Regions from separate parts of the Homo sapiens genome. Here all the other regions are linked to region 5. Evidence: fine-mapped expression QTL. A gene starts in region 5. Each other region holds a variant in brackets. All regions are shown on one strand. Distances are between the middles of the regions.

Region 1 (6,015 bases), 190 kb after region 5:
TCTTGGGGGGAGGCCACCAGCCATTGCTCATTTGATGCTCCATGATGGGCCCCTGGGCTGAGCACTGAAACCAGAACCTTCTTTTTCATTCATTTTTTCTCACCCTGTCCTATGGTGCTCACCAGAACTTCTTATGCACAGTCCATGCTCCAAGGAGCTCATGCCAGTGAAGGCAGCAGACAGAGAAAGGGAGAACTAAGAGGAAGATGAGGCAGCCCTAAGTCTGCTGCTGCCTGAAAGGGAGCAGCGAGGCATCTTTCAGAAAGCAGCCTGGCTGGTCCCCAGAATGTGACCCAAATACTGGGAACTATTGGGGCACAGAGCAAACCACATCTCTTGGAAGCTGACTCATGGGAGGAAGATGGGAAACATCTCCAGGTGGTTCACAAGCATTATCTTTTCCCACAGACCCAATACTCATGTTTACTATCTGGGACCCCCTTTCCTGGAATGGAGCCTCCTGGCAAGCTGAATGAATGATCAAAGGAGGCAGTGGGAGTTGGAATCAGAGGGGAGAGAGATGTGTCATCCTGGCCAGTTGTGCTGGGCCAGTCCCCAGAGGAAAAGAGTTTTGTAGTAGCCAAGCCACAGACAGGACTGGACAGGGCCGAACATGCACCCCCAGCTCATGTCTGAGGTTCCATCTTCGTGGCCATGCACTTGTACTTCCTTCAGATGGATGAAGCTTCATGGCAGATGCTGCCGGAATCACATTCATATTCCCTTTGGCCTTACCACTTCCATGCAGGCCACTGGGCTTCCAACTGCCAGCCTGCATACCTTGTGGCCTGATGGCTTTCTCTGACCACCAGTGCCTGCTTGCCTGTGCTTGAACACATGACTGCCCAAAAGCCCTCAAGGGGTGTTGGAGTATCAGTTGCAATTGGGACACAGGCCAAGTCCTGAGAGTAAGCATTTCCAAGGGGGACAAGAGGGATTTTCCTGGTTTGCTCCCCTAAGAACTATTCCTTGCTTTTATGTCCTCTCCATGATGACTCTAACAAATCCTGATTCAGGTTTATATATTGTTTTTGTTTGTTTGTTTTTTTGTCCTCAATCAATGCTGGCTGAGACTGTTGGAGTATCAGTACCCCAGCTCCCTCACCCCTGGAGTAGATAACTCTGAAGTGTGTGTCTATGCTGTCTCCCAGAGCTTCCTGGCAGCTTTGAGCTCCAGCTGCCCATAGCAGTAACTTCCTTGATAATTTGCTCTTTATTGGCTGCTTTCTATGTCCAGCCTCACTCCATCCCCCCTCTTCCTGGAGAAGGCCACCTCCAAATAAACTATGTGCCTCTGACTCCTTGTCTCAGGGTCTACTTCTTGGGCAACCCAAACTGAGATAAGCTCTCATCCTCCTCTGAGACAATCATTTAATCTCAACCATTACCTGTTGCTTCTTTTTTTTTTTTTTTTAAGACAGGGTCTCACTCTGCTGCCCAGGCTGGAGTGCAGTGGCATGATCATAGCTCACTGCAGCCTCCAACTCCTGGGCTCAAGCAATCCTCCTGCCTCAGCCTGCTGAGTAGCTGGCACTACAGGCATGCACCACCATGCCCAGCCAATTTTTTATTTTTTGTAGAGAGGGGGGTCTCACCATGTTGCCCAGGCTGGTCTGGAACTCCTGGCCTCAAGTGAGCCTCCTGCCTCGGCCTCCCAAAGCACTGGGATTACAGGAGTGCACCACTGTACAGAGAGCAGCCCCACCTTTGCTCTTTCCCCACATGTGCTTTATCAGGGGTGTGGTTAGCAAGGATGGGGAATAGCAGGGGCACTTCAAGATTGGGGCCTCTGAAAACTAGGCAGCATGGGGACAGAGCTGCCTCCTCTTACCGGCAAAGAGAAGGTGCAAATCAGAAGTTTTAACATATTCCTTAATTAGAGCCTGATTTTGTTCTCAGCTGCCCAGCCGTGTGGGGCCCGATAACACCAGGCAGCATTGTTGTTTTTATGCTTATGAGGCAGATCAGCTGGAAGAGCGCATTCCAAATGAGATTACATCTTATACATGTTTAATGTACTGTTCTCGCCATTTAAAATGCAGCTCTGTTAAAATAGCAGGGAGGGAAAGTTGACTCATGGAGCTGGGTGTGGAGACAATAGATCACTAGTGAAATGAATAATATATTAACAGAATAATGATGTTGCTTCTCATATTAATCGTATAAATCACAAGATTCTTGGGCTGTCAGCAGAACTTTAAAAAAAAAAAAAAAAGCAGACTTCTGGTTTTCCAGCCCACGGAAGACTGAGGCCCATAGGGCATGAGGTTCCTGGTGACCACTCTGGTTATGAAACGGAGGTTTTCTGGGCATGCTGAGGAGGCTGCCAAGGACCCAGAACTTTCCCTGGAGGCAGCAGTGATGTTGTAGGAAAACTGCAACTCAGCCCCAGCCTGCATCCCTCACTGATGTCAACTGTTTACCAAGGATATGAGAAGGTTGGGTGCGATGTGGGCCCTACCCACTGGCCGGGGAGGCAGAAATATATACAGAGACCAGGCATGGTGGCTCATGCCTGTAATACCAGCACTTTGGGAGGCCAAGGCGGGCGGATCACTTGAGGTCAGGAGTTCAAGACCAGCCTGGTCAACATGGCAAAACCCCGTCTCTACTAAAAATACAAAAATTAGCCAGGCATGGTGGTGCACGCCTGTAATCCTAGCTACTTGGGAGGCTGAGGCAGGAGAATCACTTGAACCTGGGAGGCGGAGGTTGCAGTGAGCCGAGATCTCACCATTGCACTCCAGCCTGGGCGACAGCTGGACTCCGTCTCAAAAAAAAAAAAAAAAAAAAAAGAAAAGAAAGGAAATATATACAGATCATTCCAATGACATGATACAGGTTAGGTCAGTCCCTCAACAGCCAGGTGTCCCCCACCTGACTGGGGACACGTCAGATAATGCTGGGTCCCCAGTACCTAGCCAGGACTTGATACACAGCAAGCATCCAATGGTGTCTGTAGGTTTTGAGCTGCAAATATGTGTAGAATAACACCAGGTGGATCAATACCTTCCTCCCAGTGCTCTTGAAAGAGGAAGAAGGTCCTGTGGAAGTATCAGGAACAGGTGAGTTTTGTGGGGGTTGCGATGTGTGGGGCAGTAAGGATCGACTGTGGTGATTGAAATTGTTGCAACGGACGTTACCTGCACGTGGAATTTCTGCACAAGAGCAGAGAATAGAGAACTCAGTCCTCGGTAAATATAAACCAGTGGTCTATAATCCCAGCACTCTGGGAGGCTGAGGCAGGAGGATCGCTTGAGGCCAGGAGTTTGAGACCAGCCTGGGCAACATAGCGAGATCATGTTTCTACAAAAAACAAACAAAGAAAAACAATATATAAACCAGAGTCAGGATTCATTACAGTCATCACGGAAAGGACATAAAAGCAAGGAACAACTCTCAGGGGAGCAAACCAGGAAAATCCCTCTTGTCCCCCTTGGAAATGCTTACTGTCAGGACTTGGCCTGTGTCCCAGTTGCAAGCCTGAGTGGACCACCAGGGCTTTAGGTGGCCACGCTGATATCTAATTGTTTAGAACGTGGAGAAGAAAGTCTCCCCACTCAAGCTGAGAACAGAAATCCTGGGATTTACAGAGCATCAGCACTGCCCTCTGTGACACCTGGCCCAGGTGACTGGTCACAGTCACGCACTGGGCCTTACCTGCACTCA[T/C]GTTCACAGCCAGCAGGTGCTGTGCATGTTTTCCCACTTTAGGGAGGCAGGAGCTGAGGATGGCAGACAGCAGGGGATGTGCCCCAGTCTGCCCAACTGCTAAGTGGCTGGGCTCAGTTGGGTTATTGAGCATGTACTTACAACTCTCCAGCCCCATTGATGTTGGGCTCAGCCAGGTGACCCTGCCAAGGGGAATGTGAGCCAATGCAAGCGTGGCAAAGGCTCAAAATGTGCTGGGGTCCAGGTACAGTGGCTCATGCCTGTAACCCCAGCACTTTGGGAGGCCGAGGCAGGTGGATCACTTGAGGTCAGGAGTTCGAGACCAGCCTGGACAACATGGTGAAACCCTGCCTCTACTAAAAATAAAAAAAAATTAGCCAGGTGTGGTGGCAGGCAGCTGTAATCCCAGCTACTTGAGAGGTTGAGGCAGGAGAATCACTTGAACCTGGGAGGCGGAGATTGCAGTGAGCCAAGATTGCGCCACTGCCCTCCAGCCTGGGTGACAGCTGAGCAAGACCCTGTCTCAATAGGATTAGATAATACCATCAGGGTGAGGGGCCCCCGTGATGGAACTGGTGGCTTTCTAGGAGGAAGAGAAACCTGAGCTGACACACTCTTGCCCTCTCCCAATGTGACACCTTTCACCATGTCATGATGCAGCAGGAAGGTCCTCACCAGATGCTGGTGCCATGCTCTTGGAATTCCCAGCCTTCAGAACCATGAGCTAAATAAACATCTTTTCTTTGTAAATCACCCAGTCTGTGTTTTCTGTTATAGCCACAGAAAACAGAAAAAGACACAAAACATCACTTGGGTTGTTGAATGTGCTCAAGCACCATACCCCACGGCTGTCCACAGCAGTGACTGCTCAGGGCTGGTGCCACAGAGAGCCTGGGCTGGGGGAAGCACTCAACCCGTTTGGGTCACTGCGGCTATTAATGCTATTGTTGCTGTGCTGGACTCCCTTCCCTGCAGAGACCACATCTGAACGCAGATCTCTGCCCCATCCTGGGAAGATGTAAGATGCTGAGAGGCAAATCATCTCCATGGCAACCAAACCCACCCCCCAGAGAGGGGGGTCAGTGAATTCCAGCTTTACAGGCCGCAGGAGAACAGCTGAAACCCACAGGCTGGAGAAACTGGGACACAGGCCAAAAACGTGGCTTGTGGCACCAAATGGATCACAAGCTCCCTAGGCCCCTGGGGAGCAGCCAGAGCCAGAGAAAGCTGGGAAAATAGGCCAAAGCGTACGCATCCCATCTGTACACCCTCTGCCTCCTCTCCCACTTCCCAATGCACCACAAAAGGCTCTTGCAAGGACCAGAAGCCTAAGGAGGTCTTAGGCTTTGTGTGAAAACAGCTGTAAGCTGTGGGAGCCAGGAGCAGACAAGAGGATCCCAGAGAGCTGTGGGGGATGCCGTCTCCAGGGTGGAGAAAGAAAGAAAGGAATCCTTGCCTCCTGGGTGGCTTTTCTGCAGACGTGAATGCCTATCTCTGCTAACCAGGGGTGACTGACCACCAGCATCCGTAACAATGCGGAACAGATTATAGTGTATGGAGCTCTGCCTCCAGGCAGGAAAATATAGAGAAACTGAGGCTCAGAAAGGAAACCAGGTGGCTTCAATGTCACCCAACAAGGCAGGGCAGAGCTGGAGGCAGATTCAGCTGTCCTAACTTCCAGACCAGCCTACTGTTACTTTTCCAGTGAAATCATCTAGTGAGATTTTCTTAAATCCCCCTGCCCAGGTCTCACCCAACACCAAAGAAATCAGAGTGTCTGGCAGTGGTGGTGGTGGTGTGGTGGTGGGTGGTGGTGGTGGCTGGTGGTGGTGGGTGGTGGAGGTGGTGGTGGTTGGCAGAGGTGGTGGAGGTGGCGGTGGTGGTGGTTGTTGGTAGTGGTGATGGTGGTAGTGGTGGTGGTGGTGGTGGTTGGTAGTGGTGATAGTGGTGGTGGTGGTGACGGTGATGGTGGTAGTGGTGGTGGTTGATAGTGGTGATAGTGGTAATGGTGGTGGTGGTGGTAGTGGTTGGTAGTGGTTGGTAGTGGTGATGGTGGTGGTGATAGTGGTGGTGGTGGTGGTGGTGATGGTGATGGTGGTGGTGGTGGTGGTAGTGGTGGTGGTGATGGTGGTGGTGGTGGTAGTAGTGGTGGTGATGGTGGTGGTGGTGGTAGTGGTGGTGGTTGGTAGTGGTGATGGTGGTAGTGGTGGTGGTTGGTAGTGGTGATAGTGGTGATGGTGGTAGTGGTGGTGGTTGGTAGTGGTGATAGTGGTAATGGTGGTGGTGGTGGTAGTGGTTGGTAGTGGTGATGGTGGTGGTGATGGTAGTGGGTGGTGGTGGTGGTGG
Region 2 (6,015 bases), 110 kb before region 5:
TCAAAGTAACATTGTAGTGAGAGCCTCCTTTTCCCTGAGGCTGATTGGACAAATTACATTCAATACTTTTGAGTTCTTCCTGGCTAAAGATGGAGGTCATTGACAGGAACTTCTTTTTTCTTTTCTTTTCTTTTCTTTTCTTTTCTTTTCTTTTCTTTTCTTTTCTTTTCTTTCTCTCCTTCCTTCCTTCCTTCCTTCCTTCCTTCCTTCCATCCTTCCTTCCTTTCTTCCTTCTTTCTTTCTTTCTTCTTTTTTTTTAGATAGAGTCTTACTCTGTTGCCCAGGCTGGAGTGCAATGGCATAATCTTGGCTCACTGCAACCTCTGCCTCCTGGTTCAAGCGATTGTCATGCCTCAGTCTCCTGAGTAGCTGGGACTACAGGCACACATGACCATGCCTGACTAATTTTTTTTGTATTTTTAGTGGACACAGCGTTTCTCTATGTTGGCCAGGCTGGTCCTGAACTCCTGAACTCCTGAGCTCAGGCAATCCACCTGCCTTGGCCTCTGAAAGTGGTAGGATTACAGGCATGAGCCACCAAGCCTGGCCTGGAACTTTATATATATATATTCCATAGAGATGGAATCTCACTATGTTGCCCAGGTTGGTCTCAATCTCCTGCCTTAAGTGATCCCACTTCAACTTCTCAAGTAGCTAGGACTACAGGCATGTGCCACCATGCCTGTCTAATTTTCTAAAACAATTTTTTTTTGTAGGGGGGTGGTATCACTATGTTGCCCATCCTGGTCTTGAACTCCTGGCCTCAAGCAGTCCTCCTGCCTCGGCCTCCCAAAGCACTGGGATTACAGGCATGAACCACCGTGCCAGGCCAGGAAGTTTTTTTAAGGTTGATATCGGTGGCCTTGCAGGCAATAAATAGTAGAGGGTAAACCCAGCAGCATAGCCAGGCTGAGCCCTCAGAGAGTCCCAGTGCATTTGGAAGGGGGATGGAGAAGCCAGACAGAGCTGGTTCAAACCCCTGTCTGTGTCTTCCTTGTATGTGACCTGGGCACATTACTTAACCCTTTGTGAGACTCAGTTTTCTCTCCTGTACAATGGGAACAATGTATCCCTTGCAGGGCTTTAATGAGGAACAAGGATATTCTATGTGATATGCTTGACATTGAATTGGTTTCCAGCACAGACTATCAACTCTGCTAGGACTCTGTGCATTTTTTTTTCTTTTCAGATGGAGTCTCGCTTTGTTGCCCAGGCTAGAGTTCAGTGGCGTGATCTTGGCTCACTGCAACCTCCAGTTCCCAAGTTCAAGTGATTCTTGTGCCTCAGTCTCCTTAGTAGCTAGGATTGCAGGCGTCCGCCACCATGCCCAGCTAATTTTTGTATTTTTGTAGAGACGGGGTTTCACCATGTTGGCCAGGCTAGTCTCGAACTCCTGATCTCAAATGATCTGCCCGTCTCAGCCTCCCAAAGTGCTGGGATTACAGGCGTGAGCCACTGCACCTGGCTGGACTCTGTGCCTTTTGAACAAGGTGTCAGGTGGAAAAATATTTTCCTGGATGTCTGCCCTCCCGTGCAATGCTTCTGAGAGCTCTGAGCCCCACCTGCCCCGACAGAGGCACCCTGATGACCTCCCCTGCTGGTGCCCATTTGCCCTGTTCCCCTGCAGAGTGTGACCTGTGATGCAGACCAAGGAATTCCCACCATAAGTGAGTCCCCGATGGGCTGCCCCTCTTAAGAAGGCCCCATGCAGGCTGGGTGTGGTGGCTCACACCTGTAATCCCAGCACTTTGGGAGGCTGAGGCGGGCGGATCACCTGAGAGGTTGGGAGTTCGAGACCAGCCTGACCAACATGGAGAAGCCCCGTCTCTACTAAAAATAAAAAATTAGCCGGCATGGTGGTGCATGCCTGTAATCCCAGCTACACGGGAGGCTGAGGCAGGAGCATCGCTTGAACCTGGGAGGCGGAGGTTGTGGTGAGCCGATATTGTGCCATTGCACTCTAGCCTGGGCAACAAGAGCAAAACTCCATCTCTCCATCTCAAAAAAAAAAAAAAAAGAAAGAAAGAAAGAAAAGAAAAGGGAAAAAGAACGTCCCATGCAAAAGGTGGTGGAGTGCGAGTAGGCTGGGGAAGCTGGGTTGATGGGCTCCTGGAGTGTGCAGAGTGATTGACACCTGGAGGCAGGAGAGAGGCTCTGGTCAGCTCCCATGCTGAGGAGCTGGAGAAGGTGAATGAATGTTGTGGGGAGGGTGGGGAGGGAGTGTCTTGACAAGCGTAGACTTTTTTTTTTTTTTTTTTTTTTTGAGAATGGATCTCACTCTGCTGCCCAGGCTGGAGTGCAGTGGCGCGATCTTGGCTCACTGCAACCTCCACATCCCAGGTTCAAGCAGTTCTCCTGCCTCAGCCTCCCGAGTAGCTGAGATTACAGGCGCCCCTCACCACGTCTGGCTAGTTTTTGTATTTTTTAGTAGAGACGGGGTTTCACTATGTTGGCCAGGCTGGTCTCGAACTCCTGACCTTGGGTGATCTGCCTGCCTTGGCCTCCCAAAGTGCTGGGATTACAGGCGCGAGCCATCGTGACTGGCCAAGTGCAGCCTTTTGAAGTCTGTCCTGGGTTGAATTGTGTACCCCCCAAAATTCATGTCCTTCCTGGACCTCAGAATGTGACTTTATTTGGAAACAGGGTCATTGCAGAAGTAATGGAAGTAATGAGTTAAGGTAAAATGAGATCGAACTGTGGTAGGGGAGCCTTTGATCTGACACAACTGGTGTCCTTATCATCAGAGGAGGACACACAGACACACAGAGGGAAGACAGGCATACAATGACAGAGGCAGAGATTAGAGTGGTGTATGCACAAGCCACTGTCCTGCAAGGATTGCCGGCAGCCGCAGGCAGAGGCAGGCGGATCGCCTGATCCCAGGCATTCAAGACCAGCCTGGGCAACATGGCGAGACCTCATCTCTACAAAAAATGCAAACATTAGCTGGGCATGGTGGTGCGAACCTGTAGTTCCAACTACTTGAGAGGCTGAAGTGGGAGGATCACCTGAGCCTGGGGAGAGTGAGGCTGCAGTGAGCCATGATTGTACCACTGTACTGCACCTGCACCCTGAGCAAGAGTGAGACCCTTTCTCAAGAAGCCAGGAAGGAAGCAAGGGGCAGATCTTCCCCCTGAGCCCCCAAGAAGAAAACAACCTTGCAACAGCTTGAGTTTGGTGTTGTTCTGAGTCACCT[A/G]GTTTGTGTCACAGGAAACTAAGACAGACACGCCCAGAGGGTGTGAGGAAGAGGGTCTGCAGAATCGGCTCTTGGGGCCCCCCAGGCAGAACAAGGAGGAGACAAGCTCTAGAAAACTGCATACATTGGATGAGACAGCAAATAAACCAATTGGTATAAGGAAGCACACAGGTTGATAGCACACAATACATTCAGAAACAGTTTCCCATATGCATGAAAATGTTTGGCATTTCAAATCAGTAGAGAAAAAGTGGGATTATCCAAGACATGGTATTGAGATAACTTAGCACAGTCTGAAAAACATGGAACTGGGGTCCCTCTGTTGCTCCTTATGTAAAAATGAATTCTAGATGGATCAGAGAATTAAATGTCTTATCAAAAAAAAAAAAAAAAAACAAAGCCACAGCTTCCAGGACGGTGGAATAGACATACTTTTCACAATTCCTCCTTTGCAGCTAAAACCTTTGAATATTGGATGTAAAACAAACAGATGAAGACTCTGAATGGTGGGGAGAGAAGGCAGATGGGCTGGGAGTTCAGAACTCAAGGAATGGCCTGGCAGTGAGGTCCCTGGGTTTTCTTCTTGTCTCATATATCCCAGACTGCGTTCTGAAGAAGTTGGCAGCCTAGAAATGCCAACAGGTACAGGTTTTTTTTTTTAAACACTCCAAAAAAAGCCTGCTTTTTTAAGCCAAATGACTAGAGGAAAGGGCCAGGAAAGGGACAGCCTCATGAGATTAAAAAAAAAACTTTGGGCTAGAGGTGGTGGCTCCCACCTGTAATTCCAGCACTTTGGGAGGTGGAGGCAGGTGGATCGCTTGATCCCAGGCATTCAAGACCAGCCTGGGCAACACAGCGAGACCTCGTCTCTACGAAAAATACAAAAATTAGCTGGACATGGTGGTGCAAACCTGTAGTTCCAGCTACTTGGGAGGCTGAGGTGGGAGGATCACCTGAGCCTGGGGAGATTGAGGCTGCAGTAAGCCATGATCATGCCACTGTACTCCAGTCTGAGTGACAGAGTGAGACTCTCACTCAAAAAAAATCCCCAAACTTTAGGCAATAACCTCTGCACTCCAGCCAAATAAGGCTGAAAGCACTGAGAACCTATGCCCACTCCTGCCAGCAAAGGCCAAGGGTAGATCTCAGACTGTCACCTTTTTTGGTTGTAATGAGGCACCCTAATCCAGCCCTTCACTGAGGTGGTGGCAGGGAAGCCTCCAGTGAGGACTGATACTTGCATTCCTGCTGGGTGCTCATGAAAGCCGCTCCCTCTGCAGGTTTGGTGGACACCCTTGTGGAACCTAGACTGACACCCCCACCCAGTGATAATGAGGCACCCCTTCTCCTCCCTGTTGGAGTGATTCGAAGGAGTTCTGGTAAAACAGAGGGTTTAAATAAGATCCACAGTCTTGTAACATATTATAAGAGTGATTTCAACTTAAGAAATCACTCATTATACCAAAATCGAGAAATATCTCAACTCGAATGAGACAAAGCAATCAACAGACACCAACACTGAGATGGCACAGATGTTAAAATTATCTGAAATGGATTTTAAAGCTGCTGTCATAAAAATGCTTCCATAATTGTGAACCCACTTGAAACAAATGAAAATGTAGACTGTCTCAGCAAAGGAATAGGAAGTCCTGGCAAAGAAATAGAAGATATGAAATAGAAGATATGAAAAACAACAAATGGAAATTTTATTTTTATTTTTTATTTTTATTTTTACTTTTTGGTTTTTGAGACGGAGTCTGGCTCTGTTGCCCAGGCTGGAGTGCAGTGGCACGATCTCAGCTCACTGCAACCTCCACCTCCTGGGTTCAAGCAATTCTCCTGCCTCAGCCTCCTGAGTAGCTGGGACTACAGTCACGAGCCACCATGCCTGGCTAATTTTTGTATTTTTAGTAGAGACAGGGGTTTCGCCATGTGGCCCCGGGTAGTCTCGAACTCCTGACCTCAGGTGATCCCACCTGCCTTGGCCCTCCAAAGTGCTGGGATTACAGGCGTGAGACACTTCATCTGGCCCCAAATGGAAATTTTAGAACTGAAAAATACAGTAATCAAAATGAAGCCTCAGTGAATGAGCTTGACCACAGAATGATGGGACAGAGGAAACAAGTGGCAAACTTGATAAAAGAATAATAGAAATTACCCAAGCTGAACCACAGGGAGAAAATGGGCTTGTATAAAGCCTCAAGGATCCATAGGATAATAATAAAAGATCTAACATTAATGTCATAGAAGTCCCGAAAGGAGAGTAGAAAGAGGTTGGGGCTAAAAACTCTTCAAAGAAAGAATGGCTGAACCCCCCCACCCCCACCTAATGTGATGGAAGACATAAACCTGCAGGTTGAAGAAGCTTGGTAAACAAACCCCATCAGGAAAATGCAAAGAAATATATTCCAAGACACATCATAATCAGATTTCTAAAAAACATCTGGAACACAATGAGAGAAAATAACACTTCATCTATATGAAAAAATAATTCGAATTATAGCAGATTTCTCATTTGAAACCATAAAGGCCATAAAAGAAGAAGCACAACAGTTTTCAAATGCTTACAGAAAAGAATCGTCAGCCCAGAATTCTACATGAAGTAAAAATGTCCTTTGGAAATGAAGAGGCATTTAAGACATCCTCAGATTAAGAGAAACTAAGAGATTTGGTCACCAGCCAACCTACTTTGAAAGAATGGCTAACGAAAGGTCTCAGTTGGGTGCAGTGGCTCATGCCTGTAACCCCAGCACTTTTAGGGCCAAGGCAGATGGATTGCTTGAGCTCAGGAGTTCAGAACCAGACTGAGCAACCTGGTA
Region 3 (6,015 bases), 48 kb before region 5:
ATGGCCTCTATGTGTCCAAAGAGTCAAGATCTATTTAACTCCAGCCTCAGTCAGACCTCAAAGGCTGTTCCCAAAAGACCATTCGAAATTCAAGGGATGAACTGGGGATCAGTGTGTAGAACAAGTGAAATTATTCCAATGAAAGATTTAGTGATGTCTGGTTTGCTCCTATCAGTCATATTTCATATAGTTTCTCTGATATCGCATCAGAAGAATACTAAATAGGGAGTTTGGTTGTACAACTTTAATAATGCCAGCCAAAGAAAGGGAATACATTTGAGGATCTATGAGACTCTGGCAAGCAGAATATTTTAATATTTGGCAGTATCTTTGTTCAGCAGCGTAATTAACCCCCTGCTATGGACCTGGCATTATGCTAATTGCTATCAGGGCTGCTATAATGTGAATGTGTCCCCCAAAAAGCATGTGTTGGAAACTTTATTTCCAATGCAACAGTGTTGGCAGGTGGGCCTAATGGGAGGTGTTTAGGTCATGGGGTCTCCACCTTCATTAATGAATTAATGCTGATTATGAAAGTTTTGAGGCTGCAAGTTTGATCTCTTGCTCTCCCTAGCCCTCTCTTTGCTCCTCTGCCATGAGATGACACAGCAAGAAGGCCCTTGCCAGATACCAACCCCTTGATCTTGGACTTCCCAGCCCCCTAGAAGTGTGAGTCAATAAATTTCTGCTCATTATAAATTACCCAATCTCAGGTATTCTGTTGTAGCAGCACAAAATGGACTAAGTCGGGATCTAAACATAACAGGTGCCTGATAAAAGCTCATTGGGTGGATGGTTGGATGGATGGATAGATGGAGAGATAGATGAATGGATGGATGGATAGGTAGATGGATAGATGGATGAATGAGTAAATGACAGGGTGAAGAAGGGGATGTGTGTCATGTCCTCAAGTCATCACGGTGACACTTCATGCCTCCTTTGCATGTTGTAATGGACAGAGCATTCTCATTTACTCCTCTTGTGTACATTCTGTGATTGAGTCCATTACAGCATGTGAACATCTGTCTGTCTGTCCTTCCTCTAACACCAGAGTGAGGCCTAAGGATTTGCTAGTTTCCCTATGAATAGCTTTGCTTTTCTGTGTTTCAGTCCAGTTCCTTTGGCAGAAATGACAACACGGTGTCTGGGGAGAGTTTAGCCCCAAATAGACTTTCTGCCTCAGATAATAGCAGAAGCTTTCATTTCACTTAGTTTATTAGATTTAGCCCTAGGTGGAAGGGTGAGCTACTCCCTACTCCTAGAGGATTTGTACCACACTACAGAAAAATCCCAAGATGACACATAGGGAAGGAAGTCCAGGGCAAAGCAGTGCAGAGACTATGGGCACTTTTCATTTGAGGGAATTGTGCAACCAGGGACAGCTGTTTCCAAAAGTCTTTGCTGAGACACGCTACCAACATCAGAGTTGAAATCCAGGTCGACTAATTAACCTTGGTTCCCATGACAACTAGCAGCGTGCACCCATCTGCCCCCAGGCAAGAAAGCATCTCTACAAGTGGCCTTGGGGAGAGACAAGAGGCAAAGCATCAGGGAGGAATATGAGAGCTGCCACTTCTGCTGTCCTGGCCAGGACTACAGAGGTCCTTTAAGAGGGTGGAGTCCAAACTGCATTCCTTCCACATCATCCTGAATATTGGGAAACGGAGGCCATGAAATTCCCAGAGGAATCCGTTAAGGCATGTCTATTCCCATAGGATCCCTGTACATTCTGGGAGATTCGTAGGTCCCAGGCAGCCGTGACCCTGGCAGGGAGATGGAAAAATTTAGTCTCGGGACGAGAAACCGAGGCTGTGGCCAACCCCATCTAATTATCTTTCACTAACTTTGTGATGTTTGGAGAATGTCACACTGGCTTTGAGAATGTCTCAGTTCTTGGGTCCTGTGTTCCAGAAGAACCTATTAATTGATAGAGGGGCGGGGGAGGGTGGTGTCTTAGCTCCTATTTTATTTATTTATTTATTTATTTATTTATTTATTTATTTTTGAGACGGAGTCTCGCTCTGTCACCCAGGCTGGAGTGCAGTGGCACAATCTCGGCTCACTGCAACCTCTGTTTTGTGGGTTCAAGTGATTCTCCTGCCTCAGCCTCCCGAGTAGCTGGGATCACAAGTGCGTGCCACCACGCCCCCGCTAATTTTTGTATTTTTTGGTAGAGACAGGTTTCCCTATGTTGGCCAGGCTGGTCTTGAACTCCCGACCTCAGGTGATCCACCCACCTTGGCCTCCAAAGTGCTGGGATTACAGGTGTGAGCCACCGCACCCGGCCCTTAGCTCCTATTTAAATGTATATATATATTTAGGTTAGTTAATTTCAGAGATGGCAAAACAAAAAGAAAATGTGTGTGCATCGGAGGGAACCTTTGATCCACAGCCACCGGCCTGTGCTTGGAGACATTTCTGGCTCGTCTTCAAAATTCTGTGCTAATTGACATTTGTCTTTTTCTCTGTGAAGCCCGCCATCCCCAGGTCATTAGGACATTGGGTCTGGGCTGTAGTTTCTCTCCCATCAGGGCCAGACACTGCAGCAATTATCATAAAAGACAGTCGGATAAGGAACTTGCTTT[G/A]TAGGCTTAACTAAATTATTAGACTCCTCTTGTGACCAGAAAGACTCTCCTTTTATTTGGCACTGAAAAGTTCTCAGGCATGTGTCTGCACAGAACAAAAGGCGCCTAGACATCTTTATTTCTGCCCAACTCCTTTCCCTACCCCAAAACGCTATCTAGAAGTAAAAGATGACACATGCATTACAGAAACAAAATGACTCCCCTGACAATGGGAGCCGCAGTCTGGAAGATACATCTGAAAAGAGTAGTGAGAGGACCTTATTTTTCTGATTCTATGTTGTCTGAGGAAGCTTTTTGTTTGTTTGTTTTGTTTTTGAGACAGGGTCTTGCTCTGTTGCCCAGGCTGGAGTGCAGTAGCATGATCAGGAATCACTGCAGCCTCAAACTCCTGGGCTCAAGCGATCCTCCCACTTCAGCCTCCTGAGTAGCTAGGATTACAGGTAATGTGTCACCACACTTGGCTAATTTTTGTTTCTTTAGAGATGGGGTCTCTCTATGTTGCCCAGGCTGGTCTTGAACCCCTGGCTTCAAGCAATCCTCCTGCCTTGGCCTCCCAAAGTGCTGGGATTACAGGTGTGGGCCACTACTTCTTGTCCTGGGGAAGCAATTTTTAAGAAATGTCCCATCTTGATGCAGTGTAAGGTTTTGAAATATTTGCCCCCAATTACCGCAGTGGTGGGCAGGATGTGGAATAATTTGGAAATAAGGAAAAACTTCAGGAAAGGTGGAGGGGAAGTACTCGTGGCATAAAGTTAGGGGCACAAGTCCCAGGCAGCAAAGCTAATGGGGCTTAATTAGTGGCCAGAGCTGGATCCAGAGCCGTGTCCCTGGCAGGCAGCCAGAACACAGCCTCACTTAAGGCCCGGGAATCCCTCCCTGCCTCATGAAGCTGAGTCTCTGGTCTCTGATCATGGCTTACTCCTCCCAGATGACGGCAGCATTGACGGTGAGTGTGTGTGCCCCTCAGCTCACAGCCAGGACGAGCCTATTAAAAATGCCCCTGCAGACCCCAGGGGCCACCCATTAACCTCAGAAACAAGGAGAAATAGGGGCTGGGTGCGGTGACTCACGCCTGTAATCCCTGCACTTTGGGAGGCTGAGGTGGGCAGATCATGAGGTCAGGAGGTCGAGACCAGCCTGGCCAACATGGTGAAATGCTGTCTCTACTAAAAATACAAAAATTAGCCGGGAGTGGTGGTGGGCACCTGTAATCCCAGCTACTTGGGAGGCTGAGGCAGGAGAATTGCTTGAAACCGGAAGGTGGAGGTCACAGTGAACCGAGATCACGCCATTGCATTCCAGCCTGGGCGAAAGAGCGAAACCCGGTCTCCAAAAAAAAGAAAAAAAAGAAAAAAGAAAAGAAAGAAAGAGAAAAAAAAAAAGAAACAAGGAGAAAGAAAATCCGTGGCAGCAGGATGGATCTCTGTCTTCCTGTTAGTGTTTTGGAGACGAGGAGGGTAGCTTTTTGTGTGTGTGTGTGTATTGAATGTCTGGCAGAAACTGAGTAATAGCTGAACAGAACAGTCAGGGATTCAAGTGCTCACTTCTGAATGGTTCTCAGGCAACAGGCACAGTGCCTGCTCCCAGAAACGGCTCTCTCTGCAAAGACGAACAGAACACAATGGCCTCCTTGTGTGACATGCTAAATTCGAGCCCCATACGGAGCCGGGAGCAGAAGTCGCAGAAGCACATCGGGTGGGACAGAGGGGCTCCTCTAGGAATTATCTGGTCGGGGCATGAGCAGGTGGCTGGACTTCTGGCCCCTTTATGGCCAGAAGACCAATTCTTGGCTGGTCTCTAAGCAAACAAAGGGAGCAGCACCTTGTCAGCGGATGTGATTTTTGTGACATCTGTTCCGCAGCCCCCATCAATTCACACCCAGCGTCTGCGTGACTCATGTCCTTGAATTAGCCATTGTTGGGCCCGAGGGAGGCGAACGGGAAAACCGAACGGAAGAAAGGTTTGGGGAAGGGAACGTTCTGTTCTGTCCTCCAACGATAAGCGCCTGTTTGGCAGCGTCATGGCAGGGACAATGCAGAGATGGCCTTGAAAATTCTCAGGCTGTCGGTCAGGCTGAGGGGCAAAGAAAAGTCACAGGCAGCTGACAGTGGGAAGAGCAGAGCAAGGATTCATTCATTCATTCATTCATTCATTCATTCGTCAGTGGTTTATCAGCTTCTCTCTGTGACAAGCACCCTCCTAGGCACAGTAGGTGCCCTGGTGATCAAGACAACCACCCCTCTCTTGGAGCTGAAGCTTCATGGGGAGAGAGACGTTGAAAATTGGTGCTGAAATCACCAGCCTTTGTGCAAAGCCAATATTCAACCCCACATAGGTGTTTGAGAGAGTCAGAAAAATTCCATCATAGGGGCCGCATGGCCTGTCTCACATGTGTAATCCTAGTGCTTTGGGAGGCCAAAGGGGGAGAGTTACTTGAGGCCAGGAGTTTGAGACCAGGCTGGACAACAGAGCAAGACCCTGTCTCTACATAAATTTTTTTAAAAAATTAGCCAGGCGTGATGGTGTGTGCCTGTAGTCCCCGTGGCTCAGGAGGCTGAGGAAGGAGGATCGCTTGAGCCCAGGAGGTGGAGGCTGCAGTGAGCTATGATTGCACCACTGCACTCCAGCCTGGGCAATAGAGCTAGACCCTGTCTCTAAAATAATACAAATAAACTAAAAATAAATTTCAAGATGAATAATATATGGTTCCTGCCCTGGAGGAGTAACACTCCCATGAAGCAGCTACCTGGGGGTCTCAGCAAGGCATCCTGAAAGAACAGGGCAGTAAGGAAAGGGACTCCCCTTGCAGAGTTGAATTATGGACTTGAGATGCCCTGCATCAGAGCGGAGTAGGCAAAGTCACTTTAAAGAGAGAGTCCTCAGTCAGCAGGACTATAATTGGATTTAATGTATAACTTATATAAAGAAAGATTGTGTTGAGAGGAAAGAAAGTCATTGGACAGGACCCCTCCCCCACCTCTCCCAGCTCTGTCTGGGGAGAGTTGGCACCCTGGTCCAACCCCAACAGCAGGCACATTTGCATGGCGCAGAGACACTTCCAGGCTAGCTGCGGTGGGCAGGTTGCATTATTTGCATACAATTCTTCCTTCCTTCCCTGCCCTCGTCATGGTTTCCCTTGGTATGGGCTTGCTTTAGCCAATGGAAGGTTAGCGGATGTAACCTAAGCAGGGGCTTGACATCTGCAGGTTTAAACATATGAGCTTCATTGGCCTTATGGTGGGCTCGCAAGGAGGGGTTGATACTCCAAGAACCAAGGCCTCTGCCTGGCTCTGCTTGGCTTCTGGATGTTCAAGCTGCATCCAGAGAAACAAATCCACTCATTCATGGCCTGAAAAAAAACATTTTCTGGCTAACTCTTCTGTTTGGGCCCTGGAGGGACCGTGATGAACAAGACAGACCATTCCCCGAG
Region 4 (6,015 bases), 43 kb after region 5:
GGACAGATAGACGGACGGACAGATAGAAGATGGATAGATAGGTCGATGGATGGATAGATAGATGATGAATAGATAGATGAGTGGACGGATAGATAGGCAGATGATGAATAGATAGGTGGATGGATGGATAGATGATAGACAATAGATAGATAGATAGATAGATAGATAGATAGATAGATAGATAGATAGACAGTGCAGTGTGTGGAATAGTGTCCTTCAAATTCACGTCCACCTGGAGCTGCAGCATGAGCCCTTACCTGGAGATGGGGCATTTGCAGATGTAATTAATTAAGATGAGCTCACACTGGATTAGGATCATTAGCCCTTATCCAATGACTGGTGTCCCTGTAAAAAGAGGACGGGACACACAGAGAGACATAGACGGGAGGCCCCATGTGAAGACCGAGGCAGAGATGGGAGCCACGTATCTGCAAGCCAGGGATGGCCTGGGGCCACCAGAAGCTGGAAGAGGCAAGGAAGGGGCCTCCCCTGGGGCCTTCAGAGGGAGCGCGGCCCCACTGACATCACAATATCAGACTTCTGGCCTCCAGCACTGTGAGAGGACACATTCGTGGTGTTTTAAGCCATCTGACTTGCAGTACTCTGTCCCAGCCGCCCTAGCAAATGAACACAGACGGCTACTTAAGAGTCCCTCTCCGGTTACCCAGCCCACCCTAGAGGCCACTTTTAGCCAGAGTGTTGGGGCCTTGACCCCACACTGCCTCGTCCCCTCTGTCCTCGCCCCGACCCTGACGCATCAGAGCCGGGACACTGGTGACTTTCCTGGGGAAATCTCTAGATGTGACCTCTATGGCCGGGGACAGGGGACTGGGTTTGAGTCTTGAGTCCTTTCCAGCAAGCGCCTTCCCGCTTGGAGCCTTGTTTCCTTCCTGGATAAATGGGCGGGGAAGCATCACGGAGGTGTGCGGGTTTAATCGGCACATGCGCTGCTGCCTGCAGGCCAAGCTCAGGATAAGCTCTTGCAGTAAATAGCAACGTTTATGTCCCTCGACTCCTGGCTCAGAGACGCGACCCAGGTGGGAACTTGATTCGTGAAACCCATCAGGGAGGAAGAGTCCCGACCTATGCATTGAAGGACGGGGTGGACAGAAAGAAGGAACAGCAGTTAGAAGAGCATTGGCGGGTCCTGTAGCATCTGAGTCCCTGCTTGGACCAGCTTTCTGGGAGTAGGTGTCTGTGGGCTGCAGCCCAGCTTTGAGCACCCGAGGACGTAACACCTTACCACTCTTAGGGTTGACAGATAAAATACAGGATGCCCAGAAATATCTGAATTTCAGATACACAGCAAATTATTTTTTAGTAGAAGTATATTCCAAATATTACATAGGATAGACTTATACTGTAAACTATTTGTTTATCCAAATTCAAATTTTTAAAAATCTTTTCGAAACTAGGTCTCATTCTGTTGCCCAGGCTGGAGTGCAGTGGCACGTTCACAGCTTACTGCTGTCTGGAGCTCCTGGGCTCCTCCCGCCTCAGCCTTCCCAGTAGCTGGAACTACAGTTGCGCACCACCACACCTGGCTAATTCGTTTTTTTAAGTGGAAATGGGGGTCTCACTATATTGGGCAAGCTGGTTTCGAACTCCTGGGCTCAAGCGATTCTCCAGCCGCAGCCTTCCAAAGTGCTGGGAATACAGGCATGAGTCACTACGCCTGGCCCTGGATTCAGATTTAACTGGGTATCTTGTATTTTTATTTGCAGAATCTGGCAACCATACCCGCCCCTTAGCTGGCCCCCCTCCACTGATGACTAATGGCCAGGTGTAAGACAGTCTTCCGAAGGGGCCGTAAGACCACCATGGGCTCAAGATAGACATTGAGTCCTGCCCTCGCCCACCTCCTCCTCTCTCCACCTCCACATCTTGGTTTCTTGTCCTCCGTGTGCAAAATGTGCTTTCCTGCCCCACCTACGTCTCCACATATGAAGAATCAATAACAATTTTAGAGAGAAAATACAGTTGTCATGGAAAAAAAATGGAGTGAATTCAGAGTTCATTAGGCAAGTTAATCAAATTGTCCAGCCGTGTCTTGCTATTTCTGGGAACCATCTGGCCCGCCTGATCGATGTGATTCCAGGTGGGAAGTGTTTGGGAGTGAGGGTAACCGTGACTTCTCTGAGGTCACAGCACGGAGATGCCAGGTAACCGGATGGGAGGGCTTGGCATGTCCCTGGGAGGCACTGGGAATGCATTGTCCCATGCCTGGGCAGGGGCAGCTTTGGCTGGGACCCTCCATTGGCACACACACCCCCCTTTCTCTTAGAGCTGCACATACATAGAAAGAGGAACCAAGGCTGGGCACAGTGGCTCACACCTGTAATCCCAGCATGTTGGGAGGTTGAGGCGGGCGGATCACCTGAGGTCAGGAGCTCGAGACCAGCCTGACCAATACGGAGAAACCCCGTCTCTAATAAAAATACGAAAAATTGGCCAGGTGTCGTGGCGCATGCCTGTAATCCCAGCTATTCGAGAGGCTGAGGCAGGAGAATCGCTTGAACCTGGGAGGCGGAGGTTGCAGTGAGCCGAGATTGCACTACTGTACTCTAGCCTGGGCAACAAGATCAAAATTCCATCTCAAAAAAAAAAAAAAAAAAGGAAAAAAGAAAAGAAAGAAAGAAGAGGAACCAAGAAGCCGCCACTGGCTGAGCAAGGCCTGCTCTTTCACCAGTATTTCTAGGGCTCAGTATTTCTGGGGCTTATGCTCTGTGCCTGCTGCCGTTCCAGGTGACAGTTAATACAGATGAGTCCCTCAGCCTCCCAGGGCTCATATTTCAGCCAGAGAGAGACAATCAGCAAAGAAACAAGGACTTGCAGGAAGACCACCTTCTCCAGTTGCAGGTGGAGCCACGGGACCTGCCCAAGCTGGGCCTACTCTGTTGATAGCAAAATGTCAAGTTTTATCTTGTAGCTATAACAGCTGTAAGTCATGTAGCCAAGGCATGAATGGTAGAAAAAGCTTTGAGGCTGGGTATGGTGGTTCATGCTTGTAATCCCAACACTTTCAGAGGCAAGAGGATTTCAAGGCAAAAGGATTGCTTGAGTCTAGGAGTTTGAGACCAGCCTGGGCAACATAGTGAGATCCCATCTACTCAGAAATTTTAAAAATTAGTTGGGCATAGTGGCACATGCTTTGTTGTCCCCATTCCTTGGGAGGCTAAGGTAGGAGGATCACTGGAGCCCAGGAGGTTGAGGCTGCAGTGAGCTGTGATCATACCATTGCACTCCAGCCTGGGCAACAGAGTGAGACACTGTCTTAAAAAAACAACAACAACAACAACAAAAAAGGGTGGTGGGGGAAAGAAGGAACAAAAGAAAAAGCTTTGACCTCTAACAACACTGGGAATCAATAATTTCTCCCCTTGGAACCAAGAAGACTGGGACATGACAAAAAACCTAAATACTGAAATTCGTCCACAAGCGAGGGTCTGTTGGCCCAGAAGATCTGGGGCTAAAATCCACTTCAACATACCTGACTATAAATTGTCCATTTTGAAGCCTTCCAACCAGATCCTGCCATGCCAACATTCCTAAATCCTTTCTCTTGCTCTTTGATCCCTTAGAATTTGCCCCAGACTCCAAATTAGAGAGACAGATCTGAGTCTGCCTCCTGTCTCCTGGCTGTCTTACAGTAAAGCCCTTGCTTTTCTCTAAAGCTGTGGCCATGGTATTGGCTTTTGTGCGCCTTGGAGAGCGAGCACATTTGCTCAATGACAGACGACTGCCGGCCCTCAGCCTCC[A/G]CTGACCCCCAGGCTTCTTGGAAGCCCAACCCCCTCATTTGTAGGGGTGAGTGATACGGGTCTCAGTCTCCGTGGATGCCAGTGCTAAGTAAATCCAGAACTTGCTCAACTGGCACGGCAGAGGCCCATGCTTTCTGGAGCACTTGACCCCAGAGTCAGAAAGCAGGCTCACATTCAGAGTCAAAAAGCAGGAGACAGAGTGAGACCCCGTCTCAAAAAAAAAAAAAAAAAAGGTAATTTCATTTTAAAAAGAAAGTCTCCTAACAAATTTATAATATAGATTTCATGATTCTTTTGTTGGCACTTTCAACAATGTTGGCAACAGCGTTCAAGCTGTCAGGGACTTTTGAGATTACACAGTAGACATAGTTAGGGGTGCTACCCAGCCTGTGTGCCCAGCCTCCCAACTGAAAATACCCAGATTTCTGGCCAGGCAGAGTGGCTCACACCTGTAATCCCAGCACTTTGGGAGGCCAAGACAGGTGGATCACCTGAGGTCAGGAGTTCGAGACCAGCCTGACAAATATGATGAAACCCCGTCTCTACCAAAAATACAAAAAATTAGCTGGGCGTGGTGGTGGGCGCCTATAATCCCAGCCACTTGGGAGGCTGAGACAGGAGAATCACTTGAACCCGGGAGGCAGAGGTTGCAGTGAGCTGAGATCGTGCCATTGCACTCCAGCCTGGGCAACAAGAGTGAAACTCCATCTCAAAAACAAACAACAAACAAACAACAACAAAAAAAATCAGATTTCTGCTCCAGGACTCCCTCTTCCCCTGTCTCTGAGGTGGACCCTGTTTGACTTTGATCTGACTCAATTCATTAAATTCTACTGGTCCGGCCATGGGGATGGTGACCTTCTCCAGCCAGGATGGCACAACAGGAGGTTCTGCGAGGCCTTGGGGGAAGTGAAGCCCCAGTGCAATGGCAGCCCTTTTGTGACCATGAGGGAAACCAGCCTTCAGTGAAGCTGACTCTGGTGAGGTAGCGTGGAGGGACCAAAGACACCAGGGCCTTGGTGTTGTCAAACAGCTGAATTGAACCTGACTTTGAAGCCCACCCATTCAGGAATTTTCAGTTTTGTGAGCTAATAAAGATCCTTTTTATTTAAGGATGTTATGTGTGAGGTTTCAGTTCCTTACAACTTAAGAGTACTGCCCGATAACACTCCTTCACTTCAGCTTTTTCCACAGAGGAGGGACTTGAGACTCCCAAGGGAGAGCAATGTGCCCGAGGTCTCCCAGCTGATCTGTGGCTCCCAGGCCAGTGCTGCCCGTGAGTCCTGCAGCCTGTGAGGACAGCTCCAGGGACGAAAACACAAGTGTCCCCTAGGGCTCCCACCAGTGAAGCATCCCCTGAGCCTCTCACATGCACGGGACAACTTCATGCTTGTCCTTCTCACCCTCAAGATGGTGCCACTCTTGGCTTGACGCTTGGGCTCCTTTGGGGGAGAGAAGGCTACCACTGGGTGACAATGTCACACACTGCTCCCCCAAGGCCCTGGCTACAGCCTGAGCTCTCTGGGTGGCCTGGGACAGCATAGTCTGGGAGGACATCTGGCATAGCCCCTTTCTGCCCTGGCCCCTGCACTGCTCCTCAGGTGGGGTGGCAGCTTGGGAGCGGAGGTGAGGAGCAGCAGACCACATGGGTGACTCACAGTCCCCCAGGAAACAGGTGCACCCTCACTCCAGAAGGGGCGAGGGAGGCAGGGGGACAAGGGTTGAAAAACTAACTATTGGGTACTATGTTCACTATTCGGGTGATGGTTTCACTAGAGGCTGGGATTTTTGCAGAGACTGTTTAAGGAGGGGCGGGGGTTATTTGCAGAGGTGAGGGACAGATAGAGAAATCAATCAGTATGGGACAGTTCTCTGGGTGGGCTTGGATGGTCTCAGTTCTCCCCCCGACCTCTTTCCCACTCAGAATGCAGGAAAGACAGCTGAAACAAGGAGGAACCAGCTAGCACAGCCCAGCCTCTGTTCCAACCCCCAGCCCCTAGAAAGAGGTTGTCCTTCAATGCTTTTTTTATATTATTATTATACTTTAAGTACCGGGATACATGTGCAGAATGCGTAGGTTTGTTACATAGGTATACACGTGCCATGGTGGTTTGCTGCACGCATCAACCCATCATCTACATTAGGTATTTCTCCTAATGTTATCCCTCCCCTAGCCCCCCACCCCCCAACAGGCCCCAGTGTGTGATGTTCCCCTCCCTGTGTCCATGTGTTCTCATTGTTCACCTCCTACTTATGA
Region 5 (6,015 bases):
GGAAATTAGCACATTTCCCAGAAGACCAAGATAAAAATGCATGTGAGAAGAACAAGAGAACCAAACAGATGGGGCAATAAAATGGAGGCGGAATGAGCTCATCAGGATTCCCAGCACACGGTTTAAGTCCATACTGGGCTCACAGCTGACCTGGGACCAGCCGACATAGTGAATGAGTGGGTGGTTACTATGCTGCAGCATCAGTTACACTAAGAGATTAGGTGGAGCTGATTCACTGCTGCAGATCTGCACGACTTTTCAAGTGGAGGAAAATCTGTGGGCCCTGGTCTCTGCCACTCACATAACCATCCTCATGGGTAGCATGAGTCATACATGCAGGATCTTTCAGGTAGACAAAGTTGTTGTGCTGTGAGTAAACCCAGTATGAGCTTTCGTGTTGTCGAAAGCAGGTTTTAACCACAACTACGGCGTCTCCGTGTATGAAGGTTTACCTGCTGTACTACAAAACGACCCTGCCTTTCCACATTCACCTTTGGCTACAGGTGGTTAATAACACACACAGAAAAAACAAGTTTCTGAAACGTTCCTCACACCAACAGTGATTCCTTCTTTTTCAAACTATCATGCTCTTGAGTACAGCCAAAGCACCTTTAGACAGTTGCGTCTAATCCCCTTATCTTTTTAAAATTATTATTATTATTTTGAGATGGAGTCACGCTCTGTCACCAGGCTGGAGTGCAGTGGCATGATCTTGGCTCACTGCAACCTCTGCCTCCTGGGTTCAAGCGATTCTCCTGCCTCAGCCTCCCAAGTAGCTGGGACTACAGGCGGGCGCCACCACACCCAGCTAAATTTTGTATTTTTAGTAGAGACGGGGTTTCACCATGTTGGCCAGGATGGTCTCGATCTCTTGACCTTGTGATCTGCCTGCCTCGGGCTCCCAAAGTGCTGGGATTACAGGTGTGAACCACCGTGCCCAACCCCCGCCCCTCCCTTATCTTATATGCAAGAAAACTGAAGTCCAGAGGAGAAATGACTTGCCCCAAACCACTTAGCTAGTGACAGAGTTAGAATTAGCACTAGATCCCTCATTCCTAAGCCAGCAGGCTTTTCATTGCACCAGGAAGATAAAATAAAACTGTAAATAGCATGTACTCTGTTAACTAAGCCTCTAATTATACTGCCTCCAAAGAAAATAACATTTCAAATGTCTGGGTCTTTCCATTTGAGCTTTGGCAATTTCACTGATCACTTCTCATACTGGAATCTCTTTTAAGACGTTTAGGAGTAATTATATTGGGATATATGCTATTTTTACTCTTGTACACTGCTTTCTTTGTTCAGGAGGAAATTAGAATTCTGGAAAGATACTTGATTTTGTTTAATTATTAAAGGAACAAGCTTCTACTTCAAGTAGTTGCAAATATGAATGTATCAGTCTGTGTGTCAAGAAAGGATATATGGAACAATACAGGAACGATAATACTCTATTGTCACATCCAATTAAGGGCCACCTAGGTCTACAAGTAAAGAGGAACATCAAAGCTATGAGTGAAAATGGAAAAGTCACATCGTTATCTGAATAATTTTGAAAACGTCTGGATTTGGTGCCTTATGAATCATCTGAAATGTAACAAGGCATAAAGTGCTTTGCAACCCTGTTGCCTTCATTATTGTAATTTGTGCATATGTAGGTTTATTTGAACTTTTTCGAGTTTTCATCCAGCTGAAAAAGGATGTAGGAAGAATGAGTCCAGTCAAGGTCATACTTAACAAGGTGAAACTGACACCTCCTGGGGATGCAGGCTAACAGAAACATGAGCCCATTACTCACCCCAAATCTCCCATCCATACCTTTTTCTGCTAATGAATATTCTTACCTGAACCATCATTACTTCCATTGTCCTCTGCTTTGGATACCTTGCAGACCAGGTTCCTGTCTCTCATTTTTATCCACGAAGAGATTTTCAAGAATAGAACTTTTCTTATAATTTAGCAATAATGTCCTTGAAAACCCCACAACTATTTACATAATAGAAGCTATTGTTTGAAGTGCAAAGCAGGTCAGAATTTGGTTTCTAGAGATTAATCACTGCAGTCTAGTTTATATTATCATAATAATTTCATTTATTTTGGTACAATTTGCTTTCAGAATCAACCTCGGCTTCTGCGCACAAGTGACAAATCCATTTGTTTGTGGTATAATGGATAACGTGATTAATGACCTTGCAACAGGATTTCTTAAAAACATAGAGAGGAAAAGAAATAAAGATTTCCATTTATAAATGTGCAGTAAACCAGCTCAGTCTGTAGCTGTGCACCAAAATCCCTCTGAACTTGTTTTAAGCCACAGATTTGGAGAGATTCTGAAACAAATTTGCTCCTGACTTTTGGGGGTTTCTGCTCATATCTGCTGTCTCCAAGAAGCTGAGGGCAGTGGCCTCACTTCGAGGAAGTGGTGACACTGCGGGCCCTCCTGGTTACAAGGACCGGGCACTGTTGGACCACGTGGCTCCATCATGATGACTCCAGTTAGATGTCACCCCGCCCCTGAGCTCAGGTCTTGCTGAATAAGGTCACCGCCCAGGGGGCAGTCGATGAACACGCGCGCGAGGGCTCTGCGAGTGGCCTCGTGACTTTGTCCCTAACTCCGGGTGTCCCCTCCTTCCCATCAGCGTCCGGCGCCTGGTCCTGGTCCCGGTCCCCGAGGCCCCCGGGATTCTTCCCGAGCGTTTTCCGAGTTGGCGCGGGGGGTGGAGGCGGGGCCATGGAGCGCGTCCCGGGGACCGTTGCATCCGGAGGCGGCCGTCGTGCGGCTCCTTCCCGCCTCGAGAGTGAGGTGGCCGGGCCTTGACGAGAAGGCCCACGCCTGCCGCGGGGGTGGCTCGCGATGGCAGTCGGGGTTCGAGTCCCGCCTGGGGGGCTGCTCCTGCTGGAGAAAACGCCTCCCTGAGGGCGGCGGCAAACGCGCAGCGAGGCCCCGTGCCGCGCCAGAAGCCACCCTGAGAAAGGGGCACCGGGACACCGAGGGGTTCCCACTTTCTCCTCAGCCTGTGACGCCCGCGTCCTCGGGTGGGTTCGAGGGGCGCCTGGGCACGGCCAGCCGAGGCTCTCGAGAGCCCCAGTGTCGTTTTCCACCTCAGGCCTCCTTTCCTGAGGCAGAGCCCGGGACCTCGCGCTCTCGCCTCAGGCTCCGGCCCACGCTCCCGCCCGGCCGCCAGGCGCGCAACGGAAAGCGCCCCCGCCCCGCCCCGCTCCGCCCACTGCGTGACGCGCACCCGGCCGAGCCAATCAGAGCTCGTGGCGCGCGCCCCACACGCCGGCCCCCTCCGCCCCTCAGCTTAAGAAAGGGCGCGCGGACCCGGCAGGCCAGAGTGCCGAGCAGCGCGGTGGGTGCGGCTGTGAGACGGCAGGAGACTTCTGCCCCGCGGTGCACGCGACCCTCGAGACGACAGCGCGGCTACTGCCAGCAGCGAAGGCGCCTCCCGCGGAGCGCCCCGACGGCGCCCGCTCGCCCATGCCGAGCTGAGCGCGGCAGCGGCGGCGGGATGCTGGCGCTGCTGGCCGCCAGCGTGGCGCTCGCCGTGGCCGCTGGGGCCCAGGACAGCCCGGCGCCCGGTAGCCGCTTCGTGTGCACGGCACTGCCCCCAGAGGCGGTGCACGCCGGCTGCCCGCTGCCCGCGATGCCCATGCAGGGCGGCGCGCAGAGTCCCGAGGAGGAGCTGAGGGCCGCGGTGCTGCAGCTGCGCGAGACCGTCGTGCAGCAGAAGGAGACGCTGGGCGCGCAGCGCGAGGCCATCCGCGAGCTCACGGGCAAGCTAGCGCGCTGCGAGGGGCTGGCGGGCGGCAAGGCGCGCGGCGCGGGGGCCACGGGCAAGGACACTATGGGCGACCTGCCGCGGGACCCCGGCCACGTCGTGGAGCAGCTCAGCCGCTCGCTGCAGACCCTCAAGGACCGCCTGGAGAGCCTCGAGGTAGCGGCCCGCGGGGAGCGCGGGGGACCTGGAATGGGGACGCTCCCGAGTCGGGGGCGGAAGACTCGGGAGGATGGGGAAAGGGGGCCTGGCCCTGGGGAGGGTGTGATCGTCCGTGGGGGTGAGCTGGACTTGAGGGTGAAAGGCGGGGATCTAGATCCTGCTCGGGAACTCCCCTGCGTGGTATCCCTTCCCACACCGCTGCTCTTGCTGGAAGGAAACGTTTAAATTCCACCCCCGCGCGTCGGGACTGCCAGCGGGATCCGCCGAGCACTTCCCGAGGTCCGGGCTAGCGAACCCAGACGGCCAAGCCGCGGGCGCCAAATACCCGGGGACGCGGTAGCCTCTATCCTCTTGCAAATCTCCAAATCTCCGCGAGCCGGGATGCGCTCCCGCAGGCCGTGCGGGTTGCTGCGAGGCTGCCGCGGGAGGTCAGCTGCCCCGGGCATGTGGTGTTTCTTTCTTTAAATCAGGTCAGGCTGAGCTAGAGGGGGCGGAAGTCTGGGGGCGGAGGTCGCAGGGAGGCGAGCGCAGGGGGTCACCGGCGACCCCAGAGCGCGCATTAGAGGGGCAACCTCTGGTTAACTTCAAAGACTCCCGTGTCTGCAAGTTGGACCATTTTAAGGTGCTCTTCCGGATTGCTTCAGGGGAAGGGACCTCATTCCCTTCTCTCTCTCTCTCTCCCCCCCTCCCCCCCTCCCCCTCCGTCCCCCCCCCCCGCCCCCCGCTCCCGCCTCCGTCTCATCTCTATCTCTGAAAATGCGTGCAGTTTGGAACTTTGAGAGAAAAATCTTCAATTATTTTTCATCTTTAGGCTCCACCCTTTTTAAGAAGTGTGGACACTGCTGTTAATAGCCTTTGTGAAAATACTTCTCAGCAAAACTAGGTTTAAATTACAGGTGGTAATTATTGCAAAAATGACTCTAGGGTTTCTTTTGGCGTGAGGGCTGAATACAGTATTTCCAGCATCTGTATATCCCCTGATTCATTGTGATTGCTAACAGCTAACATTTCTGGAGCACTAAATATGAGTCAGGCACATCATTTAATTTTTTAATCCTTGGAACAATGAATGGCATGAGGCAGGTCCCATTATGTGCATTTCACAATTTGGAACACTTTGTGGAGAAAGGTAAATAGCTTGCCATGAACTCATGGGTAGGCAGCCTGCCACAGCCTCCAGAACCACATGATGGTAGGGGAGAAAGAGAAATAGGAAGTGAGGATTTAGAAACAGCATTAAAAACAAAGATTGCTGGAGTTCAGAATAGCAACGTTTTAGATCTGTCATTTTCCAGAAACATCTCTGCATGCATAGTTATTTACCTTGGTGCCAGACCGGAACTTGGGGGCTGTTTTCATTTCTAGGTGAAAGCTCCTTGGCTTTGTGTAACCATCGATTTACTCTTAAAAAAGAAAAAAAATCCTGGAGCTGAGTTTTGGTCTCTACCCAACATAGAATTCTAGGCGTTGGTTAGAATATTGACTTTTTAGTAAGAGGAGAAAAACGGCTTTTTGAGAAGGGAAAATTAGATTCACAAGTTTCAAATATTGCAGCAAAGTAATTCTTATCTGACTTTGAAATCTTTTCCATACCAAAAAAGCATCAGTGAGATGCTCCCCTGCCTGCCAGTGGCAAGATTCAGGGCTTGCGTTTTGGAAGCTTCTCCCTGTGTGGTCGGGCCATCACAGCCACATTTCACAATTTCTTTTTAACTCTTTCTGTGCCCCTCCCTCCTCCCCGGTGGCTGAAAGCACCAGCTCAGAGCAAACGTGTCCAATGCTGGGCTGCCCGGCGACTTCCGCGAGGTGCTCCAGCAGCGGCTGGGGGAGCTGGAGAGGCAGCTTCTGCGCAAGGTGGCAGAGCTGGAGGACGAGAAGTCCCTGCTGCACAATGAGACCTCGGCTCACCGGCAGAAGACCGAGAGCACCCTGAACGCGCTGCTGCAGAGGGTCACCGAGCTGGAGCGAGGTGTGTGCCTGGCCTGTTTCTCTGTCTGGCAGTGGCCTGATTTTCACCACTTGTGGTCAGACATGCGATTCTGGTTGATGGACAGCAGGGATTGTGACACCACATGGG

Which allele goes with the higher level. Alleles are on the strand shown, and positions count from the first base shown. SD is a standard deviation of normalised expression in the study named. Not every link is listed here.
For the expression in tibial nerve of the gene that starts at base 3,333 in region 5, allele G in region 3 goes with a higher level than allele A (small effect, 0.29 SD a copy in GTEx).

What was found. PIP is the estimated chance that this variant, and not a neighbour inherited with it, causes the effect.
Region 1: its variant is the best candidate, but not a certain one, in a credible set for the expression of NPTX2 in aorta (GTEx, PIP 0.60).
Region 2: its variant is the best candidate, but not a certain one, in a credible set for the expression of NPTX2 in whole blood (TOPMed, PIP 0.50).
Region 3: its variant is the best candidate, but not a certain one, in a credible set for the expression of NPTX2 in tibial nerve (GTEx, PIP 0.62).
Region 4: its variant is the best candidate, but not a certain one, in a credible set for the expression of NPTX2 in tibial nerve (GTEx, PIP 0.80).

The regions. Positions count from the first base shown.
Region 1 is chr7:98,805,537-98,811,551 of GRCh38, forward strand. No RefSeq gene overlaps it. Among named protein-coding and RNA genes, the nearest start is that of TMEM130, 61 kb to the right of the region's middle. The variant T/C (reference allele first, on the strand shown) is at 3,670.
Region 2 is chr7:98,501,113-98,507,127 of GRCh38, forward strand. No RefSeq gene overlaps it. Among named protein-coding and RNA genes, the nearest start is that of BAIAP2L1, 100 kb to the left of the region's middle. The variant A/G (reference allele first, on the strand shown) is at 3,197.
Region 3 is chr7:98,565,634-98,571,648 of GRCh38, forward strand. No RefSeq gene overlaps it. Among named protein-coding and RNA genes, the nearest start is that of NPTX2, 49 kb to the right of the region's middle. The variant G/A (reference allele first, on the strand shown) is at 2,586.
Region 4 is chr7:98,657,119-98,663,133 of GRCh38, forward strand. It overlaps LOC105375419 (a long non-coding RNA gene), which reads right to left and starts at 486. Exons shown (of 3, transcript XR_927793.2): 1 at 258-486. The variant A/G (reference allele first, on the strand shown) is at 3,759.
Region 5 is chr7:98,613,953-98,619,967 of GRCh38, forward strand. It overlaps NPTX2 (neuronal pentraxin 2), which reads left to right and starts at 3,333. Exons shown (of 5, transcript NM_002523.3): 1 at 3,333-3,935; 2 at 5,691-5,907. The coding sequence starts at 3,510. RefSeq lists an enhancer at 4,161-4,787.